Linked DNA regions of Homo sapiens: region 2 is linked to region 1. The links come from fine-mapping of genetic effects on gene expression. Tissue or cell type: lymphoblastoid cells. Region 1 holds a variant in brackets; the other region holds the start of a gene. All regions are shown on one strand. Distances are from middle to middle. Region 1 has its middle 26 kb from the start of TCTN3. Region 2 holds the start of TCTN3 (tectonic family member 3).

Evidence for each region.
Region 2: TCTN3 starts here. The variant in region 1 is fine-mapped to the expression of TCTN3 in lymphoblastoid cells (GTEx, PIP 0.93).

What each region holds. Positions count from the first base shown.
Region 1 is chr10:95,717,115-95,722,498 of GRCh38, forward strand. It overlaps a transcript of ENTPD1 not described here. Among named protein-coding and RNA genes, the nearest start is that of TCTN3, 26 kb to the left of the region's middle. The variant A/G (reference allele first, on the strand shown) is at 2,603.
Region 2 is chr10:95,691,696-95,697,079 of GRCh38, forward strand. TCTN3 (tectonic family member 3) reads right to left here and starts at 2,232. Exons shown (of 14, transcript NM_015631.6): 1 at 1,949-2,232; 2 at 1,658-1,781; 3 at 1,225-1,343. The coding sequence starts at 2,204. It also overlaps a transcript of ENTPD1 not described here. RefSeq lists enhancers at 1,937-2,216, 2,691-3,192.

The sequences.
Region 1 (5,384 bases):
GTTCTGTGAGTAATAAAGTCTTTTGTTTATGATGCAGGAATCTTGTGTCTTCTGCCTGTTTCCATGGGACAGTGTCAGGATAACTGTAAGCTTTAAGTAAGCTACAATCCCAAATCCTTCACCTTTTAAATTTGTTTTCAGCAATTCGCCTAGCTACCTAGATGTGGTTCTCTTTGTGTTTATCTTACACACATTGTTCATTGAGGTTCTTGGATCTGCAGGGTTTTTTTTTTTTTTTTTTTTTTGCAGTTGCAAGATTTAATAGAGTGAAAACAGAGCTCCCATAAAATGGGAGGGGACCCAAAGGGGGTTGCCGCTCCCTGCTCAAATGCCTGGGTTTATGTCCTGATCATTGTCCCTCCACCTGTGCTCTCAGGTGATATATGATTTGACTCTTTCTTTACCTCCTGCTTTAGCCTAATTTGTATTCTAGCGAGCCCTCTTTACTACCTGATTGGTCAGGTGTGAGCTGAGTTGCAAGCCCCGTGTTTAAAGGTGGGTGTGGTCACCTTTCCCAGCTAGGTTTAGGAATTCTTAGTCGGCCTAGGAAATCCAGCTAGTCCTGTCTCTCAGTACCCCCTCTCAACGGGAAAACCCAAGTGCTGTTGGGGAGGTTGGCCGACAACCGCTCTTAACTGCTTCCTGCTGAATTGGGGCATGATAGGGGTCGTGCAGTTGAGATTTCCTCAGGAGGGGTGCCTTCAATGCCATTAACATCAGAGCATGGGCTAGCAGGCCGGTCCAGGGGTCTGCAGTAGATCTCAGTCATGGACAGCATCTGGGGCTCCATTTGAAGAACGATTTGTAATTTTACAGCTTCGATTCTGGAAGAGGCAAACTTAACAAGGAGCTTAAACATACAGGGATTGAAATGTATGGCCTGAAGTGCAGGGGCATATATGGGTGTGGGCGGTGAAAGTGGGGTTTCCTTTAGAAAAACTCCTATATGATGGGGCATCAATATTTCCAGGAAGCTGCATTCTCCATGGAAGCTCTTGGTAAGGGGAGCTACTGGTAGTACAGTGGCATGGAGGAGGTGCAGTGAGAGTGAAAGTTTTGGGTGAAGGGTTTTAAGTAATTTCCACTGGTTAGCTGCAGGCAAAAGTATTTTTCCTTCTTCGGTGGCTAGCCATCCTGAGGGGAGGAAACTATGTCCTTGTGAGGTTCCCCATTCTATGTCTTCTGCTGAGTACTGGGGCTTGGTTTCCTGGAGGGGATTACCCCATACTAGGGGTCCTTCTATAAGCATTTCTAATGGAGGGGGTCCTGCCTTGCAGCTCTTCTGGCTTCAATATCCTCTTGGTGGTTCCCTTCTATTTCCCTTTCCTTTCCTTTCTGGTGACCCCAGCAGTGTAAGACTGCCACCTCTTTAGGTTTCTCTGTACAGCCAAGAATAATCTCCTAATGGCTTCCTGATGTTTGATAGGTGTTCCCTCGGAAGTTAGGAATTTCCTTTCTCTCCATATTGCTGTGTGGGCATGGAGAACTAGGTGAGCATACTTAGAGTCTGTATATATATTTACCCTTTTTCCTTCTTCTAATTCTAGTGCCCGAGTGAGGGCTATTAGTTCTGCCAGCTGAGCACTAGTTCCTGGAGCGAGGGGATTACTTTCAAGTATTCCATTATTACTGACCACTGCATACCCCACTTTTCGAAGTCCTTTTTCTACAAAGGAACTTCCATTAGTATACAAGTTGAGGTTGGGATCAGTTAAGGGAACCTCTAGAAGGTCCCCTCGAGTGGCATAGGTTTGAGCAATCACCTGTTGACAGTTATGTTCTATCTTTTCTTTATTATTTGGAAGAAATGTGGCTCAGTTAAGAGTTGCACAAGTGTGCAGTTGCAGCACTGGCCCTTTAAGTAATAGAGCCTGTTATTTAAGCAAATGGTTGCCTGACAGCCACAAGTCTCCTTTAGCAGTGAGTATGCTGTTCACATCATGAGATGTCCACACGGTAAGATCTCTTCCCTGTATTATTTTAACTGCTTCAGATACTAAGACTGCTACTGCCACCACTACCCGTAAACAATGAGGCCAACCTTTTGCCACTACATCAATTTCCTTACTTAGGTAAGCCATGGGTTGCAAGCTGGTCTCTCGGACCTGTGTAAGGATTCCTAGAGCTATTCCTCTTTTTTCTGTGACATATAAAGAAAAGTCTCGCTCCGTTGGCAAGCTTAATACTGGGGCTTCGGTTAGGGCCTTCTTTAGGGCCTGGAAAGCCGCTTCTGCTTCAGGTGTCCTTCTTACTAAATGGGTATTGGCTTTCTGAGTTTCCTTAATTAGTGTATATAATAGCCTGGCTATTTTGCCGTACCTGGGAATCCATATTTGGCAGAAGCGTGTTATGCCAAGGAACCCTCGTAGTTGCTTTAGGGTTTTGGGATGAGGATAAGCCAGTATAGGCTGGATACGTTCCTTACTGAAGGCCCTGGTGCCTTTGGATAATTTTAGCCCTACGTATTTAACCTGCTGTGAGCAGAGCTGAGCCTTTGGTTTGGAAACCTTGTAGCCACAGGTGGCGAGGAAATTTAAGAGCGTTTGGGTGGCTTGATGGCACAAGGTTTCTGAACGGGCGGCTAAAAGTAAATCATCCACGT[A/G]CCAAAGGACAAGAGTGTCCAGGTATGAGAATTGACTCAAGTCTTGGGCTAATGCTTGGCCAAATAGATGGGGGCTATCCCTGAACCCTTGGGGTAAAACAGTCCAGGTGAGTTGAGACATTGGGTTCGAAGGATCTTCAAAGGCAAACAAGAATTGAGAGTCAGGATGTACAGGGATGCAGAAAAAGGCATCCTTAAGGTCCAGGACTGTAAACCACTCTGCTTCCTCTGGTATTTGGGAAAGCAGAGTATAAGGGTTAGGTACAGCTGGGTATGGAGGGACAATGGCCTCACTGATAATCCTGAGATCTTGCCCTAACCTCCACTGTCCATTGGGTTTCTGTACTCCTAAAATTGGAGTATTGCAGGGGCTATTGCATGGTTTTACTAGGCCTTGGGCTTTTAGTTTCTTAACAATCTTTTGGAGTCCTTGTTGGGCCTCGGGTGTAAGGGGGTACTGCCTTTGGTAGGGAAAGGAGGCAGAATCCTTTAGTTTAACTTGAACAGAACAGGCATTCTTTGCTCGTCCATATTGTCCGTCTGTTGCCCAGACTTCAGGATTAATTCCTTCCTCAAGCAGAGGGCAACAAATGGGTGTTCTTTTCCTGTGTTCAGGTGTATAATGGCCGCTGCTTTTGCTAGAATGTCTCTCCCTAACAGGGGAGTGGGGCTTTCAGGCATAATTAGAAAAGCATGTGAAAGAGTAATGTTCCCCAGTCACAACTTAGTGGTTGGGAGAAATATCTAGTGACTGGCTGTCCTAGGACCCCTCGGATAGTGACAGATCTGGAGGACAGTTTTCCGGGACAAGAGAGTAAGACTGAGAAGGCCGTGCCAGTGTCCAGGAGACAGTTAACCTCCTGGCCCTCAATGGTCAAACATACCCGGGGCTCTGTGAGGGTGATGGCATGGGCTGGTGCTTGCCACAGGCACCCTCATTCCTGCTGCTGGATCATCTGGTTAGTGGCTTCTGACTCAGAGGACCTTCGTCCCCTGGGGCAGTGGGCCTTCCAGTGATTCCCTTGACATAAGGGGCATGGACGAGGGGGCAGCTTATTTCTATTTGGACAATCTGCTTTAAAGTGTCCTTGTAGACCACACTGGAAGCAAGCCCTATTAGGCATTCGATTTGCTCAGCCTTTCTGTGTTCCAGAGCCTCCAAAGTCCGCTTGCCTGAGGGCCATGACTAAAGCGGTGGCCTTTTTCTTATCTCGTTAGTCCAGTTCCACCTGCTCCTCCTGATCTCTATTATAAAAAACCGAGGTTGCCAAGTTCAATAGGGTTTTTTAAGTTTTGCTCCATGCCTAAGGCGGACTTTTGAAGTGTTTTTTTTTATGTCTGCAGCTGACTGACTGATAAACTTATCCTTTAAGACTAGTTGGCCTTCAATAGAGTCAGGTGACAGAGAGGTATGCTTCCTCAGTGCCTCCCTTAGTCTCTCCAGAAAGGCAGTAGGATTTTCTTCCTTTCCCTGTGTTATAGTGGACATCATTGAATAATTTATAGGCTTCCTCCTAGGTTTCCCTAGTCCTACTAGCACATAAGTTAGCAAATGTCTGTGGCACCAATCTCCATGTTCTGATTCTGCATCCCAATGAGGGTTTACACTGGGAACTGCCTGCTGGCCTGTGGGGAATCATTCTCTTTCCTCTGTTGTCATCCTATCATTGACCTGACTGAGATACCAGAGATCGCCAAACTCTCAGGCTGCAGTTATGGTGGCACTTCTCTCATTTGGGGTTAGTGTCTGATTTAGCAGTAACATTATATTTCTCCATGTCAGATTAAAGGATTGTCCTAACCCTTGTAAAACATCAATATAGCCATCAGGGTTATTTGAGAATTTACCTAGGTCTATTTTAATTTGCTTTAAGTCTGACAGGGAAAAAGGTACATACACTCTGACTGGGCCGAATTCTCCAGAATACATCTTAGGGGCGTTTTTGCCTTAGGGGTAATGTTTCCTATCTGAAAAAAAAAAAACCGGGATGCCATCACCCCTAGTCATTCTCTGATGAGCATTAGTGCTAGAGCGTCTTCTATGGTCCTAATGCTTATTGCTTTCCAGGGTGCGTAACTACCCATGGACCTCTGCTTATCGGGTTAGTTACGCTTACCAAGTAGCAGTCCTGCACCCCTTTTCCCGCCTTTCTTGACCACAAAGAAAAGGGTCCAGGCTGCTGTATTCTAGTGGTCCTTTACCAGCATGCCCAACATTGCCTTTGTGCTCAGGGGTGAGTTGTAGAGCTGGGCTGGGTTCCTGAGTATTTCATAACAACCCAGTTGCCCCATCAAGATACATTCCAATAAATAAAACAGTTCTTATGCAAATTTGTGTCAGAGAGGGTGTAGGTAACATTTTGAGTCAGGATTGAGATAGATTTTTTTGATTCTATAAGTGCTTTAAGACTTGGCTGAGTGAAAACAGCTCGAACATTTCAGCAAACCAATTATTAGGCAATTCTCCTAACTCTGCTTCCACAAGAGTCTCCCTATCAATTACTGAATACCCATTGTGGTTTTTTTTTTATTATCCCAAGTTCATTGTTTTTTTGTTTTTTTTTAATTTTTTAATTTTTTATTTATTATTATTATACTTTAAGTTTTAGGGTACATGTGCACAATGTGCAGGTTAGTTACATATGTATACATGTGCCATGCTGGTGTGCTGCACCCACCCAAATGTCCAACAATGATAGACTGGATTAAGAAAATGTGGCACATATACACCATGGAATACTATGCAGCCATAAAAAATGATGAGTTCATGTCCTTTGTAGGG
Region 2 (5,384 bases), 25 kb before region 1:
TAGACATTTTAAAAAGATAGATTAGCTTCATATCTTTAGAAATGTTATAGCCATCACCAGCAAATTTCTAAGTCCACTAACCATCCCCAATAATAATAACCTCTAATCTTTATTGTACTCTACAGTTGTAGAGCGCTTTCATATACAAAGCCAATGATATTATTTCTCACTTTACAGTTGAAGAAACGAGCCTGGAAATGCTAAGGGATTTGCCCAAGTCTGTATAGCTGGTAAGGAAATGGCAGGACTGAGATCCTAATCTAATGCTCCTCCTACACTGTTGCCTCATGAAATGAAAATAAGGTTGGCATAGACTCATTTGTCAAAGATGTTCATTCAAACATTATTTGGTGCTTACTATGTGTTAGGCACTGGGGATTCAGTTAGTACCCTCATGGAGATTGTAGTAAGTGGGGAATATAGTCTATCTGTGATTATCTGAGTTAAGAGGAATGATTAAAATGATTGAAATTAAAGTTCTTTATGAGTTTTCTGATCCATAGCCAACAGAACATAAAAAGTTGCAAATGTGGCCAGGCGCGGTGGCTCACACCTGTAATCCCAGCACTTTGGGGGTCGAGGTGGGTGGCCCATGAGGTCAAGAGATCAAGACCATCCTGGCCAACATTGCAAAACCCCGTCTCTACTAAAAATACAAAAATTAGCTGGTCATGGTGGCACACACCCATAGTCCCAGCTACTCGGGAAGCTAAGGCAGGAGAATCACTTTAATCCGGGAGGTGGAGGTTGCAGTGAGCTGAGATCGTGCCACTGCACTGCACTCCTGGCGATAGGTGGAGGCTCCGTCTCAAAAAAAAACAAAAATGCAAATGTATTCCGTAATAAGAGAGAAGAGGCAGAAAGAGGCGTAGAGATTCAAAGGACAAAAAAAAAAAAAGTTTAAAAAAAAGAAATGGAAAAAAGGCCAGAATAAAAGCCAATTCTCAATAAATGTTAGACCAAGCTTGTCCAACCTGCAACCCACCGGCCGCATGCAGCCCAGGACGGCTTATGAATGCAGCCCAACAACACAAATTTGTAAACTTTCTTAAAACATTTGACATTTTTTTTGCTTTTTTTTTGTTGTTGTTTTTAACTCATCAGCTATCGTTAGTGTATTTTACGTGTGGCCCAAGACAATTCTTCTTCCAATGTGGGCCAGGGAAGACAAAATATAACACTCCTGTGTTAGAAAATGAGAACAACCAACATGTTTCTACTCACAGTTGTTCACATGGACACAAAACTGCCTGATTCCATTAGAATCCATGAAAACTCTTGAAGGAAACGGGGAATTACTCCTGAAGATAACAGAGTTGTCTACACAAACCCAGCTTGAAGACCTGTGAGGAAAGAGGAGGGAGAAGATATATTTAGAAGGGGCGGGGCAGGTCCAAAAAAGAGTGTCCCAGCAATATCGGCCAGATGATGCCAAAGAGGACTCCTTGGGCACCTATAGGACGACACGAAGGTCTTATTCTACTGGCCAGCCCTGCTCTAGAGAATCAGAAAAGGCAATTCCTAGGAAAAACCAAGGGAATGTCCTAGGAGTGGAAGTACGGGTGGGAGGCACAAAGACTAACTCTTCTTACATCCAAATGTTACCCGTTGTAGGCCCCAAACCCCTTTAGGATTCAGTCTGAGCAACGAAGCTCACCTTACGCTGCCTGGAAGGCAGAAGGAGAAAACTGTCCTCGGATGGAGAAGATAGCAGTCCCTGTCGCAGCAGCAATTTATATCGCAGGCTCCAGGAGTCAAGTCACAGACACAGATCGGTAAGACTATGAAAGTACGACACAGAGTGAGTGGGATGAAGATCCCCAAACTCTCCCAGGTGCTCACCCTCCTTCTTCCGACAGCCCCACTCCTGCTTTGTGGCAGCTCAACTTTGCTCACAGAATTTTAGATCTCAGAAGTAAGTTTCCACCCCCACAACGTTTTCCCTCACCTGGGAAGAGGTCCACAGTCCTATTCCCAGGGGCCGAGGGAGTCACGAGAGTAGGGACCACTGTAGGGAGTCCAGGCACGGCCGGGCGAGTTGCAGTCGCCTCTGAAGGGGACTGGAGGGTTCCGCCATCCGTCCCTCGCTGCAGCTCCAAAGACGTGGGCACTGCCCCTGATGGGGAGGAAGAGGGCTGAGGCCGGACGCCATCGGGGAACACCAGAAAGAACACTTGCAGGAGCGCGAGCTGTGGGGTGCGCATGGGGCATTCAGGGCCTCCGGGTCCGACGTAGGCCTCCGCGGTCTCCAATCGCATTGCCAGAGCGTGGGTGGGAGGAGTCGCATAGCGTCTGACGCCATCCGCGTGCCTCTTCTCATTGGCTCATGAGAAGGCTGAGAGCTCTTCAACCAATCGAAAGTGGGGTTGTTACAGCTCTTTCAGTGTCCTTCGGTCTGCGCCCTCCTCCTTAACGCGGGCCGGGCCGTGCCTCCGTTGCCTGGCAACCGTCAGTGACGAAGAAGCCCTTGCGCCTTCCTTCCGCTAGGTGGCGGTAGGAGTTCGGCGGACCGAGAGGTTCCGCGCCCACTTCGCGGCCCAGAGGACTGAGCCCGGCCTCCGGTGCAAGGAAACCCCAGAGGCCGGAACTAGAATTGCAAATTTTTTTTCACCCCGGATTCCAACGGTGAGAAACCCTTTCTATGGAAGAATAATGTTCTCAGGTGGGGGAAACACACCTAAGGTCACATACCTTAAAAAACAGTCTCCTCTAAATATGGCTTTTTTAAAAAAAAAAAAAACACATTAGAAATAATGTTCATTCAGCTCCTTACATTTTAACATTGAGAAATTTTGAAAACCCTAAAGAAATGCATCAAATCATTAAAGATGGACTGCATGTTTGTTGTTAGAAAAAGCAGTGAGAGAAAAATAAGAAAAAAGGGCAGGAAAAATGTGAGAAAATAGGGAGAGAAAGAATAAAAAAAAGAAACATTGTCTAGGAGGTGAGAAAATAAGATGGAGGAATGGAAATAGAAGATTTTTTTCCCCGTGTTAATGGCAAATTTTTTAAGCCTCTCTAGGAGGTTTTTGTTCTTCCCGGGAATGGCGTGCCTCTTCCGATTCCCCACAGCAGCGCGGGCCATGGGACTTTCCTTCGGTATTGGAAATGTACCGTAGCTGCACTGTCCAGCATGGTAGTCACCGGCCTTATGTGGCAATTGTGCGCTTGAAATGTGGCTAGCGTGACTGAGGAGCTGATTTTTTTTTTTTTTTTTTTTTTTGAGACGGTGTTTCGCTCTGTCGCTCAGGCTGGAGTGCAGTGGTGTGATCTCAGCTCACTGCAACCTCTGCCTCTAGGATTCAGGTGATTCTTCTGTTTCAGCCTCCTGAGTAGCTGGGATGACAGGCACGCGCCACCACGCCCGGCTAATTTTATTTTTATTTTTAGTAGAGATGGGGTTTCACCATGTTGTCCAGGCTGGTCTCGAATTCCTGACCTCAAGTGACCCTCCCGCCTTGGCCTCCTAAAGTGCTGGGATTACAGCTGTGAGTCGCTGTGCCTGGCCTGAATTTTTAATTTTTAAATTGTAATTAATTCAAAGTTAACCACAGACGTGAGTAGCTACCATATTGTACAGTGGGACTGTAGATGATCAAAATATTGCTCCTCCTAGACCCAGTATTTTCCTATGTCCACGGTTCTGACATCTGGATTATTTTGGATATTTAGTTTTAGTATATAAATTAACATCTGTTAAGAGTTATCTAAAATCTAGTACACTTACCTAAAATCTGGTCAACACCTCCCTTTACAAGTGAATCATTTAACTCAGGTAAGTTTTAGGACATTTGACTTTACTTGAATTCTCTTACAAGATCTTTATTTTCTAATGTTTTGAAGTCAGTAGCTAAAAGTCTCTCTGTGTTATAAATATTTTCAAATATGTTTTTATGTTGTTGTGTGATAGACAGCTATGGGAGATATGTGTTTGGTCTTAAAACATTTATTTACCTTATTAGTAATTTCTATAGGAAAAGGCCAAGTTCATATTATTCAGATTATATGATCATATGTATATACTAGAATGTAAATTCCAAAAATAGTGAGTTTTGTCTGTTTTGTTCATTGAAATATCCCCATGCCTAGAACAGTGTCTGGGACATGTTAGATGTGCATTAAATATTTTAAAAATATATTAAAAATTGTTTTGTTGAACTCTTTAGAATTAATCCTTAGGAATATTTTTAGTTTATTTTATTTCAGGATTGTATTTCTTTCTATAAAATTTCTTCTTTTTGCAACCAATTTACCATGTAATGATCTTTCTATAAAATTTCCATTGTACATCTGATCAGAGACTATTTTAGATTTCAAAGTTTGGAATTTAAATGGCAACTCTCAAATAGTGTTAAATTATTTCTGAATTTATTAGCGTTGGCAAAAGACTGTTGGTTGAAGTAATTTTAGAGATGAGTGATAAGGAAGTAATGTTTCCGGATCTTTTTGAGTTGCTTTTTCTTATTTTTGAATTTTAACACAACTTTTTTTTAGAAAAGTTATTTTTTTCTCTTTTGTTATAGTTAAGCAAAAAGATTATTTGTATTGCTGTTTTTTAAACTTGTTTTATTTATTGATTTAATTAATTAATTAATTAACTTATTTGAGAGAGTCTTGCCCTGTCACCCAGGCTGGAGTGCAGTGGCGCCATCTTGGCTCACTGCAACCTCCACCTCCCAGGTTCAAGCAACTTTCCTGCCTCAGCCTCCCTAGTAGCTGGGACTACAGGTGTACCCACCACACCCAGCTAATTTTTGCATTTGTAGTAGAGACGGAGTTTCACCATGTTGGCTAAGCTGGTCTCAAACTCCTGACCTCAAGTGATCTGCCTGCCTCAGCCTCCCGAAGTGTTGGGATTACAGGCATGAGCCACCGTGCCTGGCATGTATTGCTGTTTTGTATTTGTAAGAATCTCTGTAATATAGAACTCTCAATACTTTTGAGATCCAGTATTAAAATCTGAAAGATAATTTTGTGGATGAAGAATGAAATTTATTCACATGTGTCATGCAGATGTCAGGTTTAGTATGGGGACCAAGTCTTAAATTGAGATCATATAATATCATCTCAGAAGCAGAGATTTCCAAATTAGATCATATGATACTAGCAGTTGTCTGTGTTTGGGATTAAAAGAGTTTAATATGTAATTGGAAATTTAGCAAGGAGATTGTACTGAGATGGCAGACAACAAGTTCTGTCCTTTTCCCACTTCTCCCCCCTTTTCCAAAAATCTCTGAAAATTACAGAAAACTTAGATACACACACACTTGTGCATACATGAACATGCCCAGAATTGAAATACATGAAGGTGTGCTCTCATGGGCCAGACATTATAAGAATACTTGAAAAATAGAAGGCACATGGGATGGAATTGAAGGTGGACA